Homo sapiens: one gene and its partners. The protein of the gene in region 1 purifies or fractionates together with the protein of each later gene. This does not show direct contact. Each region holds a gene or a part of one and is shown in the gene's direction. Other genes may lie near its edges. The genes, in order: POLE, HAVCR2, KDM4A, DDX46 and RCBTB1.

The links.
Region 2: the proteins of POLE (region 1) and HAVCR2 purify together in Homo sapiens (co-immunoprecipitation; one large-scale study listed by IntAct). This does not show direct contact.
Region 3: the proteins of POLE (region 1) and KDM4A purify together in Homo sapiens (pull-down; one study listed by IntAct). This does not show direct contact.
Region 4: the proteins of POLE (region 1) and DDX46 purify together in Homo sapiens (co-immunoprecipitation; one large-scale study listed by IntAct). This does not show direct contact.
Region 5: the proteins of POLE (region 1) and RCBTB1 purify together in Homo sapiens (co-immunoprecipitation; one large-scale study listed by IntAct). This does not show direct contact.

What each region holds. Positions count from the first base shown.
Region 1 is NC_000012.12:132,673,843-132,677,342, reverse strand, and holds part of POLE (DNA polymerase epsilon catalytic subunit A), read left to right. Parts: intron 1-689; coding exon 690-797; intron 798-1,138; coding exon 1,139-1,249; intron 1,250-1,522; coding exon 1,523-1,608; intron 1,609-1,825; coding exon 1,826-1,945; intron 1,946-3,500. UniProt on the Homo sapiens protein: Catalytic component of the DNA polymerase epsilon complex. Participates in chromosomal DNA replication.
Region 2 is NC_000005.10:157,093,987-157,100,011, reverse strand, and holds part of HAVCR2 (hepatitis A virus cellular receptor 2 precursor), read left to right. Parts: intron 1-1,110; coding exon 1,111-1,154; intron 1,155-4,552; coding exon 4,553-4,706; intron 4,707-6,025. UniProt on the Homo sapiens protein: Cell surface receptor implicated in modulating innate and adaptive immune responses. Generally accepted to have an inhibiting function.
Region 3 is NC_000001.11:43,669,263-43,675,287, forward strand, and holds part of KDM4A (lysine-specific demethylase 4A), read left to right. Parts: coding exon 1-37; intron 38-2,242; coding exon 2,243-2,613; intron 2,614-6,025. UniProt on the Homo sapiens protein: Histone demethylase that specifically demethylates 'Lys-9' and 'Lys-36' residues of histone H3, thereby playing a central role in histone code. Does not demethylate histone H3 'Lys-4', H3 'Lys-27' nor H4 'Lys-20'.
Region 4 is NC_000005.10:134,764,004-134,770,028, forward strand, and holds part of DDX46 (probable ATP-dependent RNA helicase DDX46), read left to right. Parts: coding exon 1-89; intron 90-2,913; coding exon 2,914-3,057; intron 3,058-6,025. UniProt on the Homo sapiens protein: Component of the 17S U2 SnRNP complex of the spliceosome, a large ribonucleoprotein complex that removes introns from transcribed pre-mRNAs.
Region 5 is NC_000013.11:49,538,053-49,544,077, reverse strand, and holds part of RCBTB1 (RCC1 and BTB domain-containing protein 1), read left to right. Parts: intron 1-2,250; coding exon 2,251-2,402; intron 2,403-3,071; coding exon 3,072-3,202; coding exon of another isoform or gene 3,203-3,211; exon of another isoform or gene 3,212-3,670; intron 3,671-6,025. UniProt on the Homo sapiens protein: May be involved in cell cycle regulation by chromatin remodeling.

The sequences.
Region 1 (3,500 bases):
CTTCATCCTAAAATTTCCAGTTTTCTGGAGAGAATATTCTTCAGTGCTGGAGAGTGAATCTGACTCAAAGATATGTTTGCTGCTTTTCCCCCAAATACTTTATTAAAGGAAATATGGAGTTAGAATTTTTCATCAGTTTCTGACAGTATCATTTCCTTTTTTGTTGTATATCACTGTATGACATCAGTGTTTGAGCTAGGCAGGATTTGGACACTCGAGGGAAAGCTGGGACTTCCGTTTGGGTAGTTGATAGTGAAGGGACATGGTGAAAAATGGATTTGTAACTAGAAGGCCTTGGTTCAAACATGACTTTGTGGTGTTGGGAAAGTCTTTGTATTCAGTTTTCTCTTTTCCGAAATGAAGATATCATCTCTGTGCCACAGTTACCTTTCAGAGTTGTCATAACCACCAGAATGAGGTGATGTCTTTTGAAGAGTTTTTCTCCTAAAGTTCTGTGATTTTAGGCTTGTCCTGTGATCAGCTGCTCTCTTAGGTATGTCAGTTTTCATACCATAGGGAGTCGTGATACTCTTGATGTAGGTTGGTTAGTCTTAGGGTCCTTCTCCCAGCTCTAGAGCCTTTTGACTCTTTTAACAACCAGAGGGAGGTAGAGCAGGCTGGGGGTGGGTGTTCAGGGAGGCCTAATGGGGAGTTTAGAGCTTGGCTTTATGCTTATTTTGTCCCCACAGGACCCTGTGGTTTTGGCATTTGACATTGAGACGACCAAACTGCCCCTCAAGTTTCCTGATGCTGAGACAGACCAGATTATGATGATTTCCTACATGATCGATGGCCAGGTGAGCAGGTGGCTTCTGGGAAGTAAGCTCCTGGGATGGGGACCTTGTCTGGTCCCCATACTACAGCAGCATCTGCCCCACTGTTAGTATTTGTTGAGTGAATAATGAGTTAGTCCAGGAATGGGAGCAACCAAGCCGTTCCGACCTCCAGCTGTACCCTCCCCTTTCGAGTGGGAATCCACACACAGAGCGTCTCTTCTCAGGAAGCTTAAAGCACTTTCACATTGCTGTGGACTTCTTTGTAGTGAGAATCTCTAGGCAGAGTGTGTGGGCAGGGTGGGAACGCCATTTCTTGGCTTTGCAGCCTCTGACTTGTGCTGATTGCTAATGAACTTGGCTAGGGCTACCTCATCACCAACAGGGAGATTGTTTCAGAAGATATTGAAGATTTTGAGTTCACCCCCAAGCCAGAATATGAAGGCCCCTTTTGTGTCTTCAATGAACCCGATGAGGTAAGGAGGTATCACTTGGGAAACTACCCGGTATTGTGGGAAGAACGGACATGTGGATCTTTCCAAGGCCTCAGGCATTCCGTCAGATCAGAATTGCAGCTCCATGAGCTTTGTTCTCAGGGTATGACCGTCTTTTCTGCCAGAGACGGGCGGAGGGGCGGGGCAGGAATAAGGGCCAACATGAGGCTGCTGCTTCTGAACTTTGGGAGAGGAATTTGGAATAGCTTGAAGAAGAGAAAGAGCAGACCTCTGACTGCTGTGACTTGGGTTCAGGCTCATCTGATCCAAAGGTGGTTTGAACACGTCCAGGAGACCAAACCCACCATCATGGTCACCTACAACGGGGACTTTTTTGACTGGTGAGTCTGTGTCTTCTCTATGAGTAACTGGGCAGCATTTGAGAGGGAGGGCGTTGCGTGGTGCAGGGGCGCTTCCCATGTCGACTTAGGAGGTGGCTCCTGGGTTCACTCTGCACCTCCCGTGTCTGGGTTCCTCCCTGGGTCTGAGGGAGGAATGGAGAAAGGGGCATTAGAGCCTGACCTGCCCACTTGCTTGTCTGTCCTCTTTCCAACCCAGGCCATTTGTGGAGGCCCGGGCAGCAGTCCACGGTCTGAGCATGCAGCAGGAGATAGGCTTCCAGAAGGACAGCCAGGGGGAGTACAAGGCGCCCCAGTGCATCCACATGGACTGCCTCAGGTAGGGGCCACAGAGCAGCATGGCTCCTCACTGCTGTCCGTGAGCGAGATCTGAAGGCCTCTTGCAGACTGTGCTGTCACCACATCTCATGGGAGGAGGGTGGCCTCCGAGAGGCCGTTTCAGGTCACCCAAGAGTATGGCAGCTGCAACCCTGCCAGGGCCCGGGATGTGCTGTCTTTGACTGTTGACTGACAATTCATCAGTGACCAGGCACATTGAGCATCAGCCTCTGGGGTGGGGAAGCCGCTGGAAAGACGCACTCAGCTGACAGGTCCCAGACCTAGGACCTCATGGAGCTGCTCTGCCCAGGCAAGGTTGGGATGTGGCAGCCCGGCTGCCTCACAGGACAAGCCTCACGGGACAACCACAGATTCCATATGAGCTAGGGTGGGAGGCAGCTCAGAGCTTCGGAGAGTCACGGCGTTCGGGGGCTCTGACATGACTGGTTGGGAAGACAGGTGGATGTGGAAATGCCAACAGAAGGAGGCTGGAAGGGAAGGAAGGGAAGGGAGGGAGGAAAGGAGGGAAGGGAAGGAAGGGAAGGGAGGGAGGGAAGGAAGGGAAGGGAGGGAGGGAAGGAAGGGAATGGAGGGGCCTCCACGGCCTCTGTATTCTGCACAGTGCCACTGGGGTGCTTGCAGCCTGAATGCGTTTCTGTTTAGCTCTGATGCTCAGCACTTGGCTTGGAGAGGGAGGCCAGGAGGCTGGGGCCGGTTTAGCGTGTGACGGTGTGACAGTCCTGATCCAAGGCAGGGAGTGAGGGTTGTGAGGATTCAGGATCTGTCATGTGGGGCAGGGGGAGGCCCAGGGATGCTGGTTCTTAGGGAGGGGTTGGCACCTGGGGTTTTTGTGCCATCCGTGGAGACAGGGAATGGGTAGAGAAGGGGCTTGAGGCAGGAGGTGACCCTGCTACCGATATGCTAGCCTGGAAGCCCCACCCATATGGGGGCCCTGAAGACCACCATGAGGCTTGGTTTGGGCTCGCACTGTAGATTGGGACTCACTGGGTTGCGGGTGGGTCTTGGTGAAAGCTGGGGTAGTGGATGAACTGAAGGCAAGAGGTAAAGTGAGAGAAGAAGGCCACAGGGTGGAGGCTGCGGGGGGTGGAGACCGGACATGACCCCTGGACAGCTGCTCCAGGGAATGCGTCTGTAGGGAGGAGGTAGAGACAGGTTCCGGGTAGAGTGTGGGGGGCCTTCTTTTCTTAATTTTTATTTTTTATTTATTTTTTAAATTTTTATTCTTCTTGGCATCTGATCACATCTTGCCTTCTATTAAAGGAGGGTGGGCTTGAGTGTTTCCGTGCTGAAGGGACAGTGTGAGGAGAGAAGATCAGTGTGGTTGATAGAACTAGGCCCCAGGGGTGCAGACCTGAGGTCTGGGGAGAGGCCCAAGGAGGTGGGGCGCCCGTCGGAGAGGCCACAAACTCTGCTGAGGATGGGAGGAAGGCGAGGGCCGGAAGGACCAGTCCTGGTGCTTCCTTGTGTTGTGGATAGGTCTGTGAGATTAACTAGATCCTGATGAAGGGTTTTCACAAGGTGTCTACACCATGTGG
Region 2 (6,025 bases), on another chromosome or scaffold:
AAGAAAATGGAGGCTGGGCACGGCACGGTGGCTCACGCCTGTAATCCCAGCACTTTGGGAGGCCGAGGCGGGTGGATCACTTGAGGTCAGGAGTTCGAGACTAGCCTGGCCAACATGGCGAAACCCCGTCTCTACTAAAAATACAAAAATTAGCTGTGTGTGGTGGTGTGCCCCTGTAGTCCCAGCTACCAGGGAGGCTGAGGCAGGAGAATCGCTTGAACTCAGGAGATGGAGGTTGCAGTGAGCAGAGATCATGCTACTGCACTCCAGCCTGGGTGATAGAGTGAGATTCTGTCTCGCAAAAAGAAAAAAAAGAAAAAGAACATGGAGGTTGCAGTGAGTTGAGATTGTGCCACTGCACTCCAGCCTGGGCAACAGAGTGAGACTGTCTCAAAAAAACAAAAAAGAAGGAAATGAATTTTTGTTGTCTTTTAAAATCTAATTAGAATATAATGCCTGAGGCCAAGCCTGGTCGTTCACACCTGTAATCCCAGCATTTTGGGAGGCTGAGGTGGGCAGATCACCTGAGGTCAGGAGTTCACAACCAGCCTGGTCAACATGGCCTCGTCTCTACTAAAAATACAAAAATTAGCTGGGCGTGGTGGTGCATGCATGTAGTCCCAGCTACTTGGGAGGATGAGGGATGAGAATTGCTTGAACCAGGGAGGCCGAGGTTGCGGTGAGCTGAGATTATGCCACTGCACTCCAGCCTGGGTGACAGAGTGAAATTCTGTGTCTAAATAAATAAATAAATAAATAATGCCTGAGTCTTATCAATATTGCTAGATGTTTGTAGAACTCATTAGGGTCCTGTGAAAAAAACAAAGCACATATTTAATGTAGGACTTCCTGGCAGAAGTCTCTATTTCATAAAACAGTACGGTTCATTATCTAGATGAAAAAATGTGGCCATCCTAAAGTTGATTCCTGGGTGTTCAGTAAATTTTGTCTGTCTCTCCATTAATTATTGTGACAAGTACGGAGTAGAATTCATTTCAAATAGGATTATAGGCATCATTAAGATTTTTTAAAAACTTAGATAAAAGAAAACGTTCTTAACTATACTATTGGCTATTTTTCCTCTCTCTCTCTCTCTCTCTCTTTTTATAGCAGAGACACAGACACTGGGGAGCCTCCCTGATATAAATCTAACAGTAAGTAACTTTTTTTGTGAGCTATGTTGTACTCAACTTGGAGGGGAAATCATGGCTTTAGACTTCCTTCATGCCCACCTTGTCCTTGGGGTAAAAAGCCTTAAGTTCCCTTAGCTTCAGATTCCTGGGCTGTAACATGTTGATGATGACAGTTCTAACCTCATAGGCCTGCTGTAATGAAGGACTGACATGATGTGTGTAAAGTGCCTGGCATATAGTAAGAGCTTGAAAACCACAAAGAAGAAACATTAGCATTTTGTCCCTCTTATTCTTCAATTTCACAACTGTCTACCCTGTGGAAGGTTCAAAGATTCTTCATCTCCCTAGAATACCATTCTTCTTGCTTCCATTGCAATCCTAATGGGAAAGAGTATTTAAATTTATCTCTTTAAATATGGCAAGACACCAGTCAGGAATATTCAAAGTGAAGAGGTTTTTTTTTTTTTTTTTTAGACAGAATTTCGCTCTTGTTGCCCAGGCTGGAGTGCAAGGGTGTGATCCTGGCTCACCTCAACCTCCGCCTCCCGGGTTCAAGCGATTCTCCTGCCTCAGCCTTCCGAGTAGCTGGGATTACAGGCATGAGCCACCACACCCGGCTAATTTTTTTATTTTTAGTAGAGACGGAGTTTCACCACATTGGCCAGGCTGATCTTGAACTCCTGACCTCAGGTGATCCACCTGCCTCGGCCTCCCAAAGTGCTGAGATTGCAGGCGTGAGCCATGGCACCTGGCCTAATTTTGTATTTTTAGTAGAGACAGGGTTTCTCCATGTTGGTCAGGCTGGTCTTGAACTCCTGACCTCAGGTGATCCGCCCAACTTGGCCTCCCAAAGTGCTGGGATTACAGGCATGAGCCATGGTGCCCAGCCAGTTTTATGTATTTAACTATAAATAAAGCCATACCTTAATAAACCTCAATTTTACTGTCCCTGCTACCTTCTCAGAATAAAAGAAAAACTGGCTGGGCGCAGTGACTCACGTCTGTAATCCCAGCACTTTGGGAGGCTAAGTAGGGTGGATCACCTGTCAGGGGTTTGAGACCAGCCTGGTCAACATGGTGAAACCCCATCTCTACTAAAAATACAAAAAATTAGCCAGGTATGGTGGTGTGTGCCTGTGTAGTCTCAGCTACTCAGGAGGCTGAGACAGGAGAATCGCTTGAATCCAGGAGGTGGAGGTTGCAGTGAGCTGAGGTCGCGCCACTGCACACCAGCCTGGGCAACAAGAGCGAAATTCCCTCATAAAAGAAAAACCACTAGAAGGCAAGCTTGCAGCAATGACTTAAAAATTCTTTGAGGAGGCCGGGCACAGTGTCTCATGCCTGTAATCCCAGCACTTTAGGAGGCCAAGGTGGAAGGAATGCTTGAGACCAGGAGTTTGAGACTAGCCTGGGCCACATAGTGACACCCTGTCTCTACAAAAAATATTTTTTAAAATTTGGCCAGGCATGGTGCTGCAAACCTGTAGTTCCAGCTACTTGGGAGGCTGAGGCAGGAGGATCACTTGAGCCCAGTAGGTTGAGGCTGCATTGAGCTGTGATCATGCCCCTGCACTCCATCCTAGGTGACAGGGCAAGGCCTTGTCTCAAAAAAAAAAAAAAAAAAAAAATTACTTGAGGGCATATCCAGGAGCCCACATTTATTTGACTCAGTTTCTTGCTTGTGTATTCACAACTGATGCTCAGCATCTTGTATTTGCTCCTTCTCTCTTTGCAATCAAACAGTGCTTTTTAAGGACCTGTATGTGCCCACAATGCTTAATGCACAATATCTTGCATATAGGACTCCTGTTATTGCAGGAGTAATGTGTATTGAATCAATTTGTAAATGTATATTGAATAAATGGAAGATTTAACTTCCTTAAATTCATTGTTTTAAAAATGCTTATAATTATATGTGTGTGTGTGTGTGTGTGTGTGTGTGTGTGTGTGTTTTGTATAAATGGGGTCTCAATATTATTAGGCTGGTCCCTAACTCCTGGTCTCAAGTGATCCTCCCATCTCAGCTTCCCAAAGTGCTGGGATTATAGGTGTGAGCCTGGCCTATAATTATTATTTATTTATTAATTTATTATTTATTTTTGAGATGGAGTTTTGCTCTTGTCGCCCAGGCTGGAGTACAATGGCACAACCTTGGCTCACTGCAACCTCTGCCTCCTGGGTTCAAGCGATTGTCCTGCCTCAGCCTCCCAAATAGCTGGGACTATAGGTGCCCGCCACCACACCTGGCTAATTTTTGTATTTTTAGTAGAGATGGGGTTTCACCATGTTGGCCAGGCTGGTCTTGAACTCCTGACCTCGTGATCTGCCTGCCTTGGCCTCCCAAAGTGCTGGGACTACAGGCGTGAGCCACCGCACCTGGCCTAATCATTGTTTTTAAAGAGAGAAAAAGAGAGAACCCATAGACTGAAATTTTAGAAACAGGATTTATTTTGTGTGGCTCTCAGTTATCAGAAAATCAAGTTAACTAGAGCAATAGCAATAATAGCTACGATTGATTGAACATTTATTATGTACCAGGCCCTGTACTAAGCATTTTATATTTTCTCTCACTTAGTTTTCCTGATAACTCTACAGGATTACTCAGCCCTTAGTGGCAGAGCTGGGAATTTTTTTTTTTTTTTTTTTTTTGAGATGGAGTCTCGCTCTGTTGCCCAGGTTGGCGTGCAGTGGCATGATCTCAACTCGAGTACTCCAGTCTTTGCCTCCTGGGTTTAAGTGATTCTCCTGCCTCAGCCTCCCCACTAGCTAGGATTACAGGCATGTGTTACCACGCCTGGCTAAGTTTTGTATTTTTAGTAGAGACGGGGTTTCACCATGTTGTCCAGGCTGGTCTCAAACTCCTGATGTCAGGTGATCCGCCTGCCTAGGCCTCCCAAAGTGCTGGGATTACAGGCATTAGCCACCGCGCCCGGCCTCAGAGCTGGGATTTGAATCCACGACCGTCTGGCTGTAAAGTCTTGGCTATTGAATCACTGTCTTTTTGTGAAAAATAGACGTTTCATAGCAAGACACTAAATGTAAACTACTCTAAAACTCTCTGGGGAATCTTAGGGGATCTTGAACCAACAAGACTCCACTCTAAAGCCAATTTTTGCAGGGGCAGGGAAAGGGTCTTAAGAGCTCCTTCTCTCTTTTTTTTTTTTTTTTTTTAAGAGCTCCTTCTCTACCCACAACACAGAAGGGCACATTTTGTTTCCTTGCTAACTCCAAAGGTTAAGGGAGACCCTTTCTTGGGTTGGCTTGAGTGTTGGCTACAAGGTGACAGATCAAAGGTGATTTGAAGGACTCAGCCATCCTGTGATGTTGTAAAAGGGATGGTCCAATTCACAAATCTTGAAGCTGATTACACAAGCGATTTCTAGCTGTTTTCTGCTTAAATCCTGTTTGTGTTTCCATAGCAAATATCCACATTGGCCAATGAGTTACGGGACTCTAGATTGGCCAATGACTTACGGGACTCTGGAGCAACCATCAGAATAGGCATCTACATCGGAGCAGGGATCTGTGCTGGGCTGGCTCTGGCTCTTATCTTCGGCGCTTTAATTTTCAAATGTAAGTGTTTTTGTTTCTCTCTCCCTCTGATAACAAATTCTTCAGTGAGAACCAGTAAAAACCTAGATAGAAATGCAAATTCATGTTTATACCCAAAGATGATTAGACTAAATACCCTTTTGTCCATCCAAATCCTAACAATAATGGCTAATTTTTATTTAATATTTATTGTGTGTCAGGCAGCCACTGCGTTAAATGTTTTACATACATTTTATCATCATTACTGTCTTATGAGATAAGGAATAGTACCATCCCCATTTTACAGTGAAGGGAAGTCAAGCTTAGAGTAAGCTGCCTTCCCGAGGTTTCAACATCAGTACCTGGCAGAACCGGAAATCAAATCCAGGCAGGCTGATTCCAGTAAACTAATTTCTTTAATTCATGAATATGTCTAGGTTTGTTACGAAACACAACAACAAAAAACACTTCCTTCTGTGCACTTTTCTGTTATTGGTTTCTCAGGCATACCTCTCTGGCAGTAGACTGCAAGTCCCTTTAACACTGGGTCGTGACTGGGGTTAGAGAATGTTTTCCTCCATCATGGTACTTAGCACATAGCTTTTTCTAAGTTACTTATCCCTTTTTTTTTTTTAAACTAGCAAACAAACAAAAACAAAAAAACAGGCCCGGCGCAGTGGCTCACGCCTGTAATCCCAGCACTTTGGGAGGCTGAGGGGGGTGGATCATTTGAGGTCAGGAGTTCGAGACCAGCTTGGCCAACATGGTGAGACCCCATCTCTACTAAAAATACAAAATTAGCCGGGTGTGGTGGCGCATGCCTGTAATCCCAGCTACTCAGGAGGCTGAGGCAGAGGAATCACTCAAACCTGGTAGGTGGAGGTTACAGTGAGCTCAGATCATGCCACTGCACTCCAGCCTGGGTGACAGAGTGAGACTGTCTTAAAAAAAAAAGTAATAAAATATAAATAAATAAGCAAATAAATAAATAAATAAATACAATGGCCAGGTGCAGTGGCTCATGCCTGTATTTTCAACACTTTCGGAAGCTGAGGTGAGAGGATCAGTTGAGCCCAGGAGTTTGAGACCAAGATCAGCCTGGGCAGCAAAGCAGGATCCTGCCTCTACAACGTAATAATAATAATAATGAGCTGGGCATGGTGGCACACACCTGTAGTCCCATCTACTCAGGAGGCTGAGGTGGGAGGATCACTTGAGCTCAGGAGGCTGCAGTGAGCGGTGATTGCATCATTGCACTCCACCCTGGGCAACAGAATAAGACAGTCTCCAAAAAAAAAAAAAAAAAGAAGTGTGTTGAAGTTGATGAATTTTGATGGAGAATTACAGTAGGAAGCCATCAT
Region 3 (6,025 bases), on another chromosome or scaffold:
TCTGTGCGGCAAGTTGAGGATGGTCTTACCTTCCCAGGTTAGTTGACTATGGTGTATTTTCCACAACCCTAACTCATATATGTGTCCCGTGTTAGATGCCATATTGAGTGCTGGGTCAGAAATAAAAAAGGCAGAGTGACAGGTCCGTGAGCAGATAGCATACTTGGAGTGTGAGAAGTGCTTTGGGTAGGGATGTACAGGGAGGACTGGACACGTAGGGAAAAGCTCCTCCCTCTGCCTGGTCAGGGGTCAGGGAAACACTGGAGGTTTTGGTGAAGGTGACTCTTACAAGGTAAGTAGGACCTTCCCAGGCGGACAGAGAGAGAGGAGGGATGTAGAAAGGGAGTCCCAGATGGGAGGAGCAGGGCACAGGCATGGAGATGGGAATTTTTTTTTTTTTTTTTGAAATGGAGTCTTGCTCTGTCATGCAGGCTGGAGTGCAGGGGCGCAATCTTGGCTCACTGCAACTTCTGCCTCCTGGGTTCAAGCGATTCTCCTGCCTCAGCCTTCCAACTAGCTAGGACTACAGGTGCCTGCCACCATGCCTGGCTAATTTTTTTTTGTATTTTTAGTAGCGATGGGGTTTCACCGTGTTGGCCAGGCTGATCTTGAACTCCTGACCTCAGGTGATCCGCCTGCCTCGGCCTCCCAAAATGCCAAGTGGGATTACAGGCGTGAGCCACTGTTCCCAGCAGAGATGGGAAATATTAATAGCATGGTCCACTTGGGGGAACTGGTGGGGAGTTTCCCTCAATTGAATATTAGGGTGGAAGGCAGCTGTGTGACCAGAAGGTGACGCTGGAGAAATAGGAGATGATGTAGGGCTGTCTGCCATTTTCATTTGCTCACTTGGAAGCTTAAGAAGCCATTTATATTTTAAGAGAGGGAGTGGTGTGATCAGTGCTGTTTAGCAGTCACTTGGAAGGTCATTGAGGCTAGATTTGTTAGAGAAAGGCTTGTATCTGTCTTGGGTCAGGTATGACCCAAAGATGTGGTCTGCCGACAGCCAGGCAGCACTGTGGACTGACACCCTGGGCTGGGCTGGCTTCTCTTCAGCAGATTTTCTTTCCCTTTTTTCTCTTCAAATTTATTTATTTATATTGACAGATAAAATCGTGCATATTTGTCTTGTACAACATAATTTTTTTGTTTGTTTTAGAAACGGGGTCTTACTGTGTTGCCCAAGCCTTTGTGAACACAGCTCACTGCAGCCTCAACTTTCTGGGCTCAAGCAATCCTCTTGCCTCAGCCTCTCAAGTAGGTGGGACTACAGGCATACACCACGCCTGGCTAATTTTTTTTTTTTTTTTTTTTTTTTTGAGACGGAGTCTCACTCTGTCTCCCAGGCTGGAGTGCAAAGGCATGATCTTGGCTCACTGCAACCTCCGCCTCCCGGGTTCAAGTGATTCTCCTACCTCAGCCTCCCAAGTAGCTGGGACTACAGATGCTTGCTACCACGCTGGCTGATTTTTGTATTTTTAGTAGAGACGGGGTTTCACTCTGTTAGCCAGGATGGTCTCGATCTCCTGACATCGTGATCCGCCCACCTCAGCCTCCCAAAGTGCTGGGATTACAGCAGTGAGCCACCATGCCTGGCCCATGCCTGGCTAATTTTTAAATTCTGTAGAGACAGAGTCTGACTTTGTTGCCCAGGCTGGTCTTGAACTCCTGGGCTCCAGCAATCCTCCCATCTTGGCCTCCCAAAGTGCTGGGATTACAGTTTTGAACTACTGCTCCTGGTCCAACATGATTTGTGAAGTATATATAAGTTGTGGAATGGGTAAATCTAGCTGTTTAAAATACATATTCACATAGTGGTCATTTTTGCAGTGAGAACATTTAACATCCACCCTCTTAATATTTTTCAAGATCTTTAGATTTTCTAGCATGGGCTAGGTAGCCAGGTCTCTGCTGAGCTCAGACTTGCATTACCTGCAGGAGACTTTGGAGGAAATGGCAGCTGCCCCTTACTGAGTGTCTGCTGAGTGCCAGGCGGTGCTCAGGAGTCTTATTTATGAGCCCTGTAGATCTGTAGTAGCATCTTCTCATTACAGAGGAAGAAGCTGGAGGCCAGGAGGCTGAGCAAATAGCCCTGGCTCACAGTGCCCCTCAGTGACAGAGCCAGGATTGGAAGCCAGGTCCCATTCCCCGCCCATGTTCCTTGTGCTTTGCCCTCTGCCTTTCATCAGGTTCACATGTGCAGGAGGAACTTGGCTCTGTCTAATGTGTATGTGTGTTTCAGATTATTCTGACTCCACTGAAGTCAAATTTGAAGAGCTTAAAAATGTCAAACTAGAAGAGGAGGATGAGGAGGAAGAACAAGCAGCAGCTGCCTTGGATCTTTCTGTGAATCCTGCGTCTGTAGGGGGACGCCTTGTCTTCTCAGGCTCCAAAAAGAAATCATCTTCTAGCCTGGGCTCTGGCTCTTCACGGGATTCTATCTCTTCTGATTCAGAAACTAGTGAGCCTCTCTCCTGCCGAGCCCAAGGGCAAACGGGAGTTCTCACTGTGCACAGTTATGCCAAAGGGGATGGCAGGGTCACTGTGGGAGAGCCATGCACGAGGAAGAAAGGAAGCGCCGCTAGAAGTTTCAGTGAGCGGGAGCTGGCAGAGGTATGGGCTCCAGGCAGTGGTGTGGGGTGGGGAGCTGCCCTGGAGGACACCCTGTCGGGAGGGGATCTGTGTGGGGGAGGGAGGTGGATCTGTGTGATGGAGGTGCTGCAGGAGGGCAGGAGAGACCCTCAGTCAGTGCCTCTAGCCAGCAGTGGTTGTGTCAAACAAAAGCCTGGGGTGGCATTCACTCTCCCAGCTTGTTCTTTGCTGGGAGTTGCTTTTCTGTTATCCCTGTGGCTACTGATTCCAAGAATTGCATCAATGCAGCCTGAGTCACAGCAGCAGATCCTCCTCAGCCCACTTGGATCACAATGCCTTTTTTTTTTTTCTTGAGATAGAGTCTCTGCTCTGTTGCCTAGCTAGAGTGCAGTGGCATGATCTTGGCTCACTGCAACCTCTGCCTTCCAGGTTCAAGCAGTTCTCCTGCCTCAGCCTCTCGAGTAGCTGGTATTACAGGTGTGTGCCACCACACCCAGCTAATTTTTGTATTTTTAGTAGAGACAGGGTTTCACCATGTTGGCCAGGCTGGTCTGGAACTCCTGACCTCGTGATCTGCCCACCTCAGCCTCCCAAAGTGGTGGGATTACAGGCGTGAGCCACTGTGGCTGGCCTTTTGTTTTTTTTTCTTTTTTTTTTTGAGACGGGGTCTCGCTCTGTTGCCCAGGCTGGAGTGCAGTGGCACGATCTTGGCTCACTGCAAGCTCCGCCTCCTGGGTTCACACCATTCTCCTGCCTCAGCCTCCCGAGTAGCTGGGACTACAGGCGCCCACCACCACGCCCAGCTAATTTTTTGTATTTTTAGTAGAGACTGGGTTTCACCGTGTTAGCCAGGATGGTCTCGATTTCCTGACCTTGTGATCCGCCTGCCTTGGCCTCCCAAAGTACTGGGATTACAGGCGTGAACCACCGTGGCTGGCCTTTTCAACTGGGGTAGGCAGGAACTCTTCCTCTGATCCTCATTGCCTTAGCGGCACCAGGGTTAGAATGGCTGCTGTTGGAGCCCACGTGTTTGGAGGTTTGGGATCAGATGAGATGACCTTTCTTACCTTGAAATTCAAGGGTTTTTTTCTTACACCTCTTGACTGCCCTGTAGACTCCCAGTATGACATTGATAGAGCATCCTTTTGGAGACCAAGATGCATTCCCAAAGCTATAAACACGAACATGTGTGTTCAGGCTTCCTCCTTAAATACATGTTGTCACCAAAAGCTGATTCCTGCTTTTGTGCAAAATGGCTCTTGGTGGGTCTGCCACTCTGAGTGATCAGTCATGTCAGATGCCACTGGACCCCCACTACCCAAGTGACTTTCCCTGACTCCCCAGCCTTGGAGCTTATGTGGGTCAAGCTGCAGTCTTTGGTGAGGGGTGGGAGATAGAAGAAGCCAGTGCAGAAGGTCCTCTTTATTCCCTATTCCCTTACCTTTAGTTTTTAAAAATGTATCTTAAAAATCTTCACTATGGAAAATTTCTGACGTACGTACAAAATACCATCACGAGCCCCCGCGTGTACTCATCATATATATGATTAACATTTGGCACATTTGCTTTCTGTTTTCTTTGGCTGCAGTACTTGACACTCAGTCATATTCACATTTCCCTAGTGTTGCCAATAGTCCCTTTTTATGGTAGGTTTGTCTCCTTGTTGTTGATACTCATAACTTTTCTCGGTGCCTTCTCTGAATCTCAGGGTACGGTTTTGGTAGACTTCTTTTTACCTTGTGAATGTTCCTCTTTCCATCCCACTGTGGTTGCAGGCTAATGAGCTAATAACTACTGTGTTTCCTTCTCATTGCCTCTGATTGCAGTTCTCTGTGCCTTCTTATGGCAGCTTCCATAAAGGAGGGCTTTTTCAGCCTGGAAACCAGAGTCTCTTTAACTCCCAGTTGCCACCTAGCAATTCTTCCTTCGCAGAGGCCCCGGGCCATTTCATCCATCCTACTGTTGACTACTGTTCACTACAGTTCATGCTGTCCTCTTGCTGAGTCTTCCTGACATTCTTGTTTCTAGTTGCAATCACAATCACAAAAAGCAGCTAAGAAGTAGCAAGAGCTCACTGTATATTAAATACTTTGTTTATCTTTTTTGAGACAGGGTCTTGCTCTGTTGCCCAGGGTAGAGTGCAGTGGCACAGTCTTGGCTCACTGCAACTTCTGCCTTCTGGGTTCAACCCATCCTCCCCACCTCAGCCTCCCAAGTAGCTGGGACTACAGGTGCACACCACCACTCTTGGCCAATTTTTGTATTTTTCGTAGAGATGGGGTTTCAACATGTTGCCCAGACTGGTCTCGAAATCCTGGGTTCAAGTGATCCTCCTCCCTTGATCTCCCAAAGTGCCGTGATTTCAGGTGTGAGCCACTGTGTGCCCCACCGCCCCCCAGCTGTTAAATACTTTATATGCATTGTTCAGTCTTTGTATTACTGCTTAATTAATCTTATTACAGAGTCAAGTTTTTGTGGGAATTTTTTGGGGTGGGAGGTGCAGGAAGCCAATAAATAACACCTGTCCTTTTTCCTCTCAATTCGGAACTATTTAATTGATGATACAAGAGTCAGGCATATGGAGCTCAGAATGTCGCTTTATTTACAAGTTAAAATGATTGAAGAAAGTGACTTTTAACCTGTGACTAAATGGCCCTGCTACTTTTTTTTTTTTTGTGGGGGGACTGAGTCTCGCTCTGTTGCCCAGGCTGGAGTGCAGTGGTGTAATCTTGGCTCACTGCAACCTCCACCTCCTGGGTTCAAGTGATTCTCGTGCCCCAGCCTCCCGAGTAGCTGGGATTACAGGCATGCACCACCACTCCTGGTTAATTTTTGTATTTTTTTTAGTAGAGATGGGGTTTCACCATGTTGGCCAGGCTGGTCTGTAACTCCTGAGTGCCCGCCTCAGCCTCCCAAAGTGCTGAGATTACAGGTGTGAGCCATCGCGCCTGGCCTACTCATTTACTCTTGATGTCTCCAGGCCCCTCTAGAGGCAAAGCATTTCCATGGAAGCACTCAGCTTCCATGTGGTGTGGATGTAGGCCAGAATGCACTCCCTCTCCAAAAGACAGATCCTAGTGAAGTGAAGCACAGCTTTCAAGGGGGTGGGGAGAAGAAAAGCCAGGACTCCTTCCGTGTGGAAGTGTGCTAGGGGAAGGGGTCTTCTCTCTGACATGTCTCTCTTTTTCAGTCCTCTGCTCAAAAACCCTTGAGTGTCTTCTTGGTTCCTTTTTATTTCGGTATGTACTTTTCAGGCCGAGCCTGATGATAATACCCTAATAAATAACCCTCTCTGCTCCATCGCCAACCATCCCTCCACCTCCAACATGTGCTGGCTTGTTTGTTTGAACTACTTAAAAGTCTCTAAAACTGTCTTGGCTGCCCTGCCACTTCCCTCTACTTTCTAATCATTTATGGCATGCCTACTCTAGGC
Region 4 (6,025 bases), on another chromosome or scaffold:
TCTAGAAGTAGAGATAGAGATAGGAGGAGAGAGAGGTCTCGTAGCAGGGATAAAAGAAGATCTCGGTCAAGGGACAGGAAGCGTCTGAGGTAAGACATTAATTAATTTCCAAAAGACGAGTGATAAATTGGGCCTTCTCGGCTATAGCAGGCTTCTTGAAAAGTATGTTTTCAACTGGAGTTTGGTGGCCCAATTGCAGGCCCTTTTCTTTATCCCCTACTTGTTTGATTAGACCCAGAAGGATGTGCCTACAAAGACTCTATCAAACAGTGTTTTTTTTTTTTTTTAATCTTTTTTGAGACAGAGCCTCACTCTGTTGCTCAGACTGGAGTGCAGTGGTATCATCTCTGCTCACTGCAACCTCCACCTCCTGGGTTCAAGCGATTCTCATGCCTAAGCCTGCCAAGTAGCTGGGATTTCAGATGTGCACCACCACACCTGTCTAATTTTTGTGTCTTTAAAAGAGACGGTGTTTTGCCATGTTGGCCAGGCTGCTCTCGATCTCCTGGCCTCATGTGATCCTCCCACCTTGGCCTCCCAAAGTGCTGGGATTACATGTGTGAGCCACCGTGTCCGACCATCAAACAGTGTTTTTAGTTTGGAAACTTTAGGCTGTATTTCCTGTAACCCAAAGACATCCCTTGAAGCCCTCTGAGGGACATACAAAATGAAGTAAAAAGTAAAGTAATAAGTTATATTCAAGAGGGTTCTATTCCAATTCTGCTCCAGGAGAGCTGACCAAGGTGTTAATTTTCTTTCCTTTTTTTTTTGCCACCCTTGTTGAAATTTGTAAAATTTCCTTCCTCTCTCCCTCCTTCCCTCCCTCCCTTCCTCCATCTCTCTCTTCCTTCCTCCCTATCTCCTTCCCTTCCACTCTCTCTCCCTTCCTCCCTCACTCTTTCTCTCTTTCTCTTTCTTTCTTCATTTTGCTAAACAGTGTGTTTAGAGCAGCCTCTAAAGCAGGCAGAAAAAGGAAACAAAGCAGACCCTCTCCAAGCCTCTTAAACTATTTTAATGAGCTGTCATAGATTTAAACTAAAGAGCGCCTTAATCTTTTTTTTTTTTTTAATTTATTTTTTTTTTGAGACAGAGTCTCACTCTGTCACCCAGGCTGGAGTGCAGTGGCACGATCTAGGCTCACTGGAACCTCTGCCTCCCGGGTTCAAGTGATTCTCATGCCTCAGCCTCTTGAGTAACTGGGATTACAGGCATGCTCCACAAAGCCTGGATAATTTTTGTATTTTTAATAGTGACAAAGTTGGCCAGGTATGGTGGCTCATGCCTGTAATCCCAGCACTTTGGGAGGCCAAGGTGGGTGAATCACGAGGTCAGGAGTTTGAGACCAGCCTGGCCAACATGGTGAAACCCCGTCTCTACTAAAAAAAAAAAAAAAAAAAAAATTAGCCAGGTGTGGTGGTGCATGCCTGTAAACCCAGCTGCTCGGGAAGCTGAGGCAGGAGACTTGCTTGAACCTGGGAGGTGGAGGTTGTAGTGAGCCGACATGGTGCCACTGTACTCCAGCCTGGGCGACAGATCAGGACTCCATCTCAAAACAGAAAAAAAGAAAATAATCTTCTGTGCACACCACACCCAGCCAATTAAAAAAAGCTTTTCATAGAGATGGGGGTCTTAACTGTGTTGCTAGTGGCCTCCCAAAGGGTTGGGACTACAGGTATGAGATACCATACCTTGCCCAGTTTCTCATTAAAATAGGAAAGGAAGACAAGATTGTGTTGTGAGTGGATCATAGAAAGAATTTAACTTTATCCTTTTCAGACATTGGAGTACATTGTTGTTACGTAGGATTCAGGGAAAATATTCACCCGTGACAATGTGGATAGCATTTTCACATTTTGTGGTCCTAGGAACAATTTCACACAATTAATTCAAGTACTTAAGTGAAAATGGTTATTTAACATTTGGTCTTTGACTTTTGGGTGTGAAAGTAGAATCACAAGATTTTAGAGCAAGAGGGATTTTAAAGATGTCTAGTGAAGTCTCCATATTTTATAGATGATGAAACTGAGACCCAGAAAGTTGGAGATCTGACCTTCATCATGTCATTAGTTACCAGGAGTAGCAGGATAGAAATTCTTGCCTCTTCATCTTCAGATTAGTGATCTTTTAGTAGACCCATTATGCCCATCCTTATACTTAGGTTTAGGCTATCTGAAACTAGATATTCTATCTTAGACCATCGATTTTCAATCGATGTTAATTACAGACTTATTATGGTTTTTTCACAAACATCTTTATGAAATTAGTATTCTCTGGCCTGGCATGGTGGCTCACGCCTGTAATCCCAGCACTTTGGGAGGCTGAGGCAGGCAGATCACCTGCGGTTGGGAGTTCGAGACCAGCCTGACCAACATGGAGAAACCCCATCTGTAAAAATACAAAATTGGCTGGGCATGGTGGTGCATGCCTGTAATCCCAGCTACTCAGGAGGCTGAGGCAAGAGAATCGCTTTAACCCAGGAGATGGAGGTTGTGGTGAGCTGAGATTGCGCCATTGCACTCCAGCCTGGGCAACAAGAGCAAAACTCTGTCTCCAAAAAAAAAAAAAAAATTAGCCGGGCATGGTGATGCACATCTGTAATCCCAGCTGCTGGGGAGGCTGAGGCAGGAGAATCACTTGAACCCAGAAGGCAGAGGTTGCAGTGAGCTGCAATTGTGCCACTGCACTCCAGCCTGGGTGACAGGTGTGAGACTTTGTCTTTAAAAAAATGAAAGAAATAAATTAGTATTCTCATTTTTTTCGTTGAGCACTTATAAGACTTGGCTTTACTTCATTGAGACCTCCACCTTTAATAATGGTAGTGATTAAGATTCTTTCAATGTGGGACAGAATCCCCTGATCTGAAATAGTAGCTCCATTTGGTCATAGAATAAATGAAAAGTGTCCCCCTTTCAGACGTTCCAGAAGTAGAGAGAGAGACAGAAGCCGAGAGCGAAGAAGATCTCGAAGTAGAGACAGGAGACGCTCAAGGAGTAGAAGCCGGGGCCGGCGATCCCGATCCTCCAGTCCTGGAAATAAAAGCAAGAAAACTGAGAATAGGTAATGTTATCATTGGGCTGCATCTATAGTGCAGACTGGGGACTGCTTCCCTTCTCTGCGCCTTTTTTTTTTTTCCCTGTAAGTTTGTATTTATAGAGAATTAACTGCATTTGGCTCCTACCATGAACTGTTGGCAGTGTTTTATTTTAATTGGCTATAATGTTTATAATTCAACTGGAAAATAATAGATTCTGTCAGTTTTAACATTCAATACATTGTATTCTTACTTAATACATAACTGTCAATCAGAAATGTATTTTATAGACATCTTTGTAGAAACTCTGTCATTTTCTTTTCAGGCAGGGTCTCACTCTGTTGCCCAGGCTGGAGTGAAGTGGCAAGAACATAGCTCACTAACCTTAAACTTGTAGACTCAAGCAATCCTCTCACCTAGGCCTCCAAAAGTCCTGGGATTATATGAAGAGGCAGACATAATATCCCAGCTAATTTTTATGTTTTTAGTGGAGATGGGGTTTTGGCATGTTTGCCAGGCTGGTCTCGAACTCCTGACCTCAAGTGATCTGCCCACCTCGGCTTCCCAAAGTGCTGGGATTACAGGCCTGAGCCACCGCGCCCAGCCAAGACTTGTCTTAAAAGTTAAGAAATTAGGCCAGGCGCGGTGGCTGACGCCTGTAATCCTTGCACTTTGGGAGGCCAAGGTGGGCGGATCACCTGAGGTTGGGAGTTGGCGACCAGCCTGACCATTGTGGATAAACCCCGTCTCTACTAAAAATACAAAATTAGCTGGGCGTGGTGGCGTATGCCTGTAATCCCAGCTACTCTGGAGGCTGAGGCCGGAGAATCGCTTGAACCCAGGAGGCAGAGGTTGCGGTGAGGTGAGATCATGCCGTTGCACTCCAGCCTGGGCAACAAGAGTGAAACTCCTTCTCAAAAAAAAAAAACAAAAAAAAGTTAACAGAAATTAAGACAATGTGCAATTTGTTTAGCAGTGGACAGACAGATTAGTGAACCATGTAAAGAGCCCAGAAAGGCATCCATACACATGGTAATTTGATAGATGACAGAGGTGATGATGTAATAAGTGAAGATTTTTTTTTTTTTTTTAACAGCCAAAGTCTCGTTCTGTTGCCCTGGCTGGAATGCAGTGGTGCAATCTCGGCTCACTGCAACCTTCGCCTCCCGGGTTCAAGTAATTCTCTTGCCTCAGCCTCCCGAGTAGCTGGGACTGCAGGTGTGTGCCAACATGCCCAGCTAATTTTTTGTATTTTTTAGTAGAGATGGGGTTTCACCGTGTTAGCCAGAATGGTCTCGATCTCCTGATCTCGTGATCCACCCGCCTCGGCCTCCCAAAGTGCTGGGATTAAAGGCGTGAGCCACCGTGCCTGGCCAGAAAAATTTTTAAATTGCTCTAGGGATATCTAGTATCCTTTTATGAAATAAGACTGCCTACCTTATTCTGTGTACAAAAAGCAATTCCAAGCAAAGACCAAATTAGATGGCAAAATTCTAAACCTTTTAGAAGTTTGTGCCAGAGAGTATCTTCTTCTTCACCTCTAGGTATCTTACATCAAATCTGGAAGGATTTCTAAACTACTTTAAAAAGCACCAATTATAAAGGAGAAAAAAGGTTGACTAATTTGATTACATTAAAATTAAGAAATTTTATTCATTATGAGATGCCGTAAGTTGGGGTGCGTAAACAAGTTGGGTTTATTCCAAGAATGGCAGGTTATTTTAACATTAAAAAATCATTAGAAGTCTGGGTGAAGTGGCTCACGCCTGTAATCCTAGCACTTTGGGAGGCCGAGGTGGATGGATCACGAGGTCAGGAGTTTGAGACCAGTCTGACCAACATGGTGAAACCTCGTCTTTACTAAAAGTAAAAAATTAGTCAGGTGTGGTGGCACACACCTGTGATCCCAGCTACTCGGGAGGCTGAGGCAGGAGAATCACTTGAAGCCGGGAGGTGGAGGTTGCAGTGAGCCGAGATTGCGCCACTGCACTCCAGCCTGGCCGACAGAGAGAGACTCCGTCTCAAAAAAATCCCCTAAAATCATTAGAACATTAGAACATTCGAAATGCATGTCCCTTGGGATTTTAAACGTTATTACATATATAAATTATCTTGCAGAATATTAATATATTGGTCTGTTTCTTCATTTATCACATTTTAACTATCCTACCTATAAACAAACTATATTGTTTGTATGTAGTATGTTCAGTTTTTCTTGGGTTGAATTTCCAAATATTTAGTAATGCTTCCCATTAGTGTCATGGGATTAATTTTTTTCGTTATATTTTCAAGGTTTTTTTTTTTTTTTTTTTTTTGAGGCAGAATCTTGCTCTGTCGTCAGGCTGGAATGTAGTTGTGCAATATCAGCTCATTGCAACCTCTGACTCCCTGGTTCAGGCTATTCTCCTGCCTCAGCCTCCTGAATAGCTGAGATTACAGGCACGTGCCACCATACCCAGCTGATTTTTGTATTTTTTAGTAGAGACGGGGTTTGTTTTTTTTGTTTGTTTTTTTTTTTTTTTTGAGGTGAAGTTTTGCTCTTGTCTCCCAGGCTGGTGGGCAATGGTGCAATCTCGGCTCACTGCAACCTCCGCCTCCCGAGTTCAAGTGATTCTCCTGCCTCGGCCTCCCACCCCTGAGTAGCTGGGATTACAGGCGCCTGCCACCAAGCCCGGCTAATTTTTGTACTTTTAGTAGAGACAGGGTTTCACCATGTTGGTCAGGCTGGTCTAGAACTCCTAACCTCATGTGATCCACCTGCCTCGGCCTCACAGAGTGCTGGGATTACAGGCGTGAGCCACCGCGCCCGGCCGAGTTGGGGTTTCACCATATTGGCCAGGATGGTCTCGATCTCCTGACCTCGTGATCTGCCTGCCTTGGCCTCTCAAAGTGCTGAGATTAGAGGCATGAGCCACCATGCCCAGCCTCCAGGTGTTTGTTAATGGAATATGAAAACACAGTTGACTCTTAGAAGTTTATTTCTTACCTAAATAT
Region 5 (6,025 bases), on another chromosome or scaffold:
CTTTTAATTATAGATTAAGCAGAAAACTCTCATAGGAATGCTGTGCTTCTGTTTCTAAGGGACATGCAATTACCAATTGAAGAATGTTCTAGGCTCAGCATGGTGGCTCATGCCTGTAATCCTAGGACTTTGGGAGGCCAAGGCGGGAATATCACTTGATCCTAGGAGTCTGAGACCAGCCTAGGCAATATAGCGAGACACTGTCTCTACAAAAAATAGAAAAAATTAGCCAGGTGTGGTGGTGCATTCCTGTAGTTCCAGCTGCTCTGGAGGCTGAGGTGGAAGGATTGCTTGAGCCCAGTAGATCAAGGCTGTGGTGAGCTGTGATCATCCTGGGAGACAGAGTGAGATCTTATCTCAAAAATGAAAAAAAAAGTTTTTAAGATATAGTTCCTTGTATAAATGTGAGGGACCTATGCGTTTATTAGTAACTGTTTGCCACAAAGGTTGCCATTGCAGAAAAAGGCACATAAGCTAAGACCATTAAAGTGGCCATTTACAAGTCTTTTTGGAAATTTAGGTAAAAACCTATTGGCAAAGAAATACATTTGAAAGGAACAGAAAAGCCCTATGTCATTCCTTACCTAAGGGAGTAAATATCTGAACCACAGTATTAATTGAAAAGATGAACTGGAACTGTTTCTGTCTGTGCACCTGTGGTCAACCAGTCTATTCCTTTCATGTACAGTTTTCTGACCATGAAATCCATGATTCTTTCTTAGACAACTATTTCTTTTTTATTTCTCAGGTAATTTTTTATGTAAGTGAAACTATTTTTTTAGTATTCTGAATGGATTCTTTTTCTTTTTTTTTTGAGACAGAGACTCATTCTGTCACCCAGGCTAGAGTGCAGTGGCGTAATACCAGCTCACTGCAACCTCCACCTCCTGTGTTCAAGCGATCTTCCAGCTTCAGCCTCCCAAGTAGCTGGGATTACAATCGTGCACTAACCACGCCCAGCTAATTTTTGTATTTTAAGTAGAGACAAAGTTTCGCCATGTTGGCCAGGCCGGTCTCAAACTCCTGACCTCAGGTGATTGAGGCTGACCTGCCTCGGCCTCCCAAAGTGCTGGAATTACAGGCTTGAGCCACTGCACCTCAGAATACTTTTTCTCTTTGTGCCGTATCTCACTTTAAAATAATTTAAAAATATGATTTTTAGAAAGATACAACTGTGTTATACATAAGAAAATCCAATATTCAGAAATCAGTTTCTTGTGCAGGTGGCTTTGTACATGTAAATACAGTGTAGGAGCTGCTCAGGTTTTCTTGAAATATCTGACTATCCTAGTGGATGTGAGTGTTTTATAAATAAGCTTGTAGCAGGCCTGGGAAGAGAGGAAGGGGAACAGGCAATGCAAAAAAAAAAAAGGAGTGATGGCTGTTTTGACGATAAGTCAGAAAAGAAGAAAAATTGTCGGATAATCAGACAATAATCAGCTTGATGTAATCCAGTTAACATATAAAACAGTTTTAAGAATATGCTTATTATGTAAAACAAAAAACAAATGAATCATTTTAATGTTGATACATAGTCAAAAGTTTTGAACTCTTGTTTCTGAATTTCTTTCACTTTATTGTTTAAAATGCATTTCTGTACATCATTTTAAAAAAAACAAAGGAGCAAAAAAATCTTGGGGACCATCAAATGGAAACAGTAGTGGAAGTGCTAGGTACTTCCAGGCTCTATGTATACCTATTAGTATTTAATAGGAGTTACAAAAAATGAAAGTGAGTGTATGTAAAAGGCATGTACAAAAACCACTTGCATGTGGAATGTTTTTTGGGTGCTAACTAAAGGTCTGTGATCCTGGTGTGTTCAGGCCCAGATAGTAGTTAATATACTTACTTTTTTTTTTTTTTTGAGACGGAGTTTTGCTCTTGTTGCCAGGCTAGAGTGCAGAAGCGCAATCTCGGCTCGCCACAACCTCCACCTCCCGGGTTCAAGCGATTCTCCTGCCTCAGCCTCCTGAGTAGCTGGGATTATAGGCATGCACCACCATGCCCAGCTAATTTTGTATTTTTAGTAGAGACGGGGTTTATCCATGTTGGTCAGGCTGGTCTCGAACTCCTGATCTCAGGTGATCTACCCGCTTGGCCTCCCAAAGTGCTGGGATTACAGGCATGAGCCACCACGCCCGGCCCAAGGATACTTCTGTTTATCTGATTTTATCAACTTAATTAGGTAATTTTTTTTTCTTTTTTAAAAATTGCTGCTGAACAAATAAGACTTTTGCTTTGCTGTTTTAGGTGTGAGCATTTTCGATCCATGTTCCAGTCGTATTGGAATGAAGACATGAAGGAAGTGATAGAAATCGATCAGTTTTCTTACCCAGTGTATCGTGCCTTTCTCCAGTACCTCTACACAGACACAGTCGACCTGCCGCCAGAAGATGCTATAGGTACTGTGGTAGCATTGGGATGGACGAGCCGCATGGTGGAGAATATATCCCCTCATATTCTTAGTCCTGAAATGTAAAAAGCTTCAGGTGTATTGGCTTTAATTTGGTGCTTAAAAAAGATTTGAAGTAAGTATCTTTAAAAGTAGTATTGTGTAGTTATTATGGTTAATAGTTTTGGACCTAGTTTATGACCATAGGCTTTTTTGTTCTAATGTTACTGAAGGACTTTTTTTTTTTTAATTTATTTTTAAGTTCTGGGGTACACGTGCAGGATGTGTAGGCTTGTTACATAGGTAAACGTGTGCCATGGTGGTTTGCTGTACCTGTCAACCCATCACCTAGGTATTAAGCTATGGGCTTATTTTAATTTTCTAGTAGTGAAGTATAAGTTGCTAATGCATTTAGCGTTTTAGAAACAAAATGAGGATTGAAATTGCATTTTTTGCTCTTTCTTTGCACTATTGAAGAAATTGTATAAAGTAAATATAGGAGAGGTGTGGAAGTGGAGGAGGCAGACAGTAAAAAAGAGAATTTATTTACTCAAATTCAGAATCTTATCCACTAAGAAACTTCTAATTTACCTGTACACCTCTGTTCACCAAAACAAAATCTCTGTGTATTGGAAATTATTATACATTTGATTAAACCTTTCACATATTTTACTTTTAGGTCTTCTGGATTTGGCGACATCTTACTGTGAAAACAGACTGAAAAAACTTTGTCAGCACATTATCAAGAGAGGAATTACTGTGGAGAATGCCTTTTCGCTATTCTCTGCTGCAGTCAGATATGATGCAGAGGTAACTTAAACAACAAACAGAAACCAGACCACCTTTAACTCCCTTTGTGCTCGTCTCCCCCGCTTCTTGCGTGAGGCATGGAAAACGATGAGTCACTCCACTTCTGTTTAGGGAATCAGTGAACCCATTGAAAACTGAAATCTGCCCTTGCTTCTTAATTCCCTGTTCATTGTTTCAAAAGTCGTTGTTCCTCTACTTTCATTTCTAAGTAAGACAGGAAACGAACCAAGGTCCTAGCAGCTGTGCTGCAGGTTGGAACATAAGGTGCCACAACTAATTGGACTAACAAACAGCATATTTTAGTTTCAAGTCTTTCTTAATGTCAGCATATGTGTTTATTTCGAGACTTACCTTGCTGTCTTTCCACCTCTGCCCTGTCATAAGCTGGGGATGTGTATGATTTGTATCTGTGTACGCTCTGCAATTCTATTAGTGTCTAATTACAGCTCACAGTTATTTACCTGTTAAGAACTTGCTGTGGACTCCTTTTGTTTTTGCACTGGGTTGAGTTCTTAATCTGAGATTCACAGATCTGTTGAGCCTGTGAATTAATGGGCTTTGGGGAGTCTGAAAGTTTGTGTGCATTTTTTTGAAGAACCAAAGCATCAGACTGTAAGCTCCTCGTGAGCAGGAACTGTCTCATTCGTCTGTATACCCTATAGTGCCTGGCACATATTAGGCACCTGATAAATGTTGAACTGGATGAAGATAGTACCTTAAAGGAAGCATTAAGGATGATCAGTGAGCTGAAGGCGGGTATGGTTGGTTTCACAGATTCAGAGAGAATAAAAGGTAGAGAGCAATAGCCTTGGAGTTTCAAAATATCTAGCTAAGTTGTGCATGTAGAATGTTACAATTAGCCTATCCTTGCAGATACTTTGTCATTTGACAAAGCAGAATATCTGGTATCAAGGAGTTTATCAAACACCTGCAAAGATCTGCAGCTGTGTCCTTTGAGGTATAAGAGGACACACTTCATCACACATAGGGATCAAAGTTGACCACGATGTTTTCAAAATGTATCTTATTTTTGTTTGAGGCTATATTCTGATTATAAATATTTGATAAGGTCAAATGTAGCTGACTTTGTCTGCAGCCCGACAACAGATGGAATGATGATCAAAGTAAATCATTTCTAATAGAAAATGGGGTATGATTTTTTTCCTGTCCTTCCTGTGACACCCTGAACCTCTTTATTAGAAAAGCTGTTTCTTTAGATTTTATTTCCACCCGGTGATATAATTTTAAATTGGGTTAGTGCCTTTTCTGTCCATTTGGTGACGGATGTTAGAATCCTCTCTGGGCCTCTCCACGCTCCTCCTCCTTGTTAACGAGTTCCATACTCAGGATCAGACCTTGCTGACTAACACCAGTGAGAACAACCTGGGCAGAGGCAGATGTCTCGGCTCAAGTTGCTGGAAACTTCTTCCTCACTTTTAGCTAAGATCTGTCCTAGGAAGTTTACAGAAAAAGCCTCTGCTGCTGCTTCCTGTGCCAGCAGGTCATTTCCTTTACTAGTTTTCATTTTTCTCATATTAAGTATAAACATGATAAAAACTTCCTTTAGAAAGACTCCAAATAAGTGTGATTCCCCAGAGTCTGTCACAGTGTGGGCATGGAGCTGGCGCTCAAAAATGCATGTTGAATTAAATAAATGAGTGAAAACATTTGAAATACCTCACCATGAAGGTGTGCTTAAAAAAAAAAAAATGGCCAGGCTTGGAGATCACGCCTGTAATCCCGGCACTTTGGGAGGCCAAGGTGGGCCACTTGAGATCAGGAGTTTGAGACCAGCCTGGCCAACATGGTGAAACCCTGTCTCTACTAAAAATACAAAAATTAGCTGGGTGTGGTGGTGCGTACCTGTAATCCCAGCTATTCGGGAGGCTGAGGCAGGAGAATTGCTTGAATCTGGGAGGGAGAAGTTGTACCACTGCACTCCAGCCTGGGCAACAGAGCAAGACTCTGTCTCAAAAAAAAAAAAAAAGTTAAAAAAAACTTAAAATCCTACAAATATTACAGATTCAACGTAGAAAAATTAGAGAATAGAAAGAAGACAAAAAGAAAGACTCACCTCTTTATTTCTAGGGCATATATATATATGTGTGTGTGTGTGTATATATATATATTCATAATTTGTATGTATTTTTTTTTCCTGGTGATACAGGGTCTTGTTCTGTTGCCCAGGCTGAAGCACAGTGGTGTGATCACAGCTCACTGTAGCCTCAACTTCCTGGGCTCAAGTAGTCCTCCTTCCTTCCCAGTCCAGGAACTGGGACTACGGATGTGTGCCACCACACCCAGCTAATTTCTTATTTTTTATTTGTTGTAGAGACAGGGTTTCATTATGTTGCCCAGGCTGGTCTTGAACTTCTGGGCTCAAGTGTCCCTCCCACCTCAGCCTTCCAAAGTGCTGGGATTATAGGCATGAGCCACTGCGCCAGGCCTCTTTCTAGGGTGTATTTCTTAGGTTACAATACAAGTTACGTAATTGACTAATGTGCTTTTACATTTTATTTCCTGAATGCTACAAGATACAGTGAGTACATGAATGAAGTTCTGGAGTACAAAATTAAAATCCATAGCTGGGCACAGTGGCTCATGCCTGTATTCTAGCTACTCAGGATGCTGAAGTGGGAGGATTGCTTGAGGCTAGGAGTTTGAGACCAGCCTGGACAACATAGTGAGACTGCCATCTCTTAAAAAGAAAGCCCTCTTACTGTGTTTATTAGTTGATTGGAGGCTACTGATGAGTCAGGTTAGAAATTGACTGCAAAAACTATTATTTTTAGAGCTCAACTTGGGGATGCTAGATGACTTTGC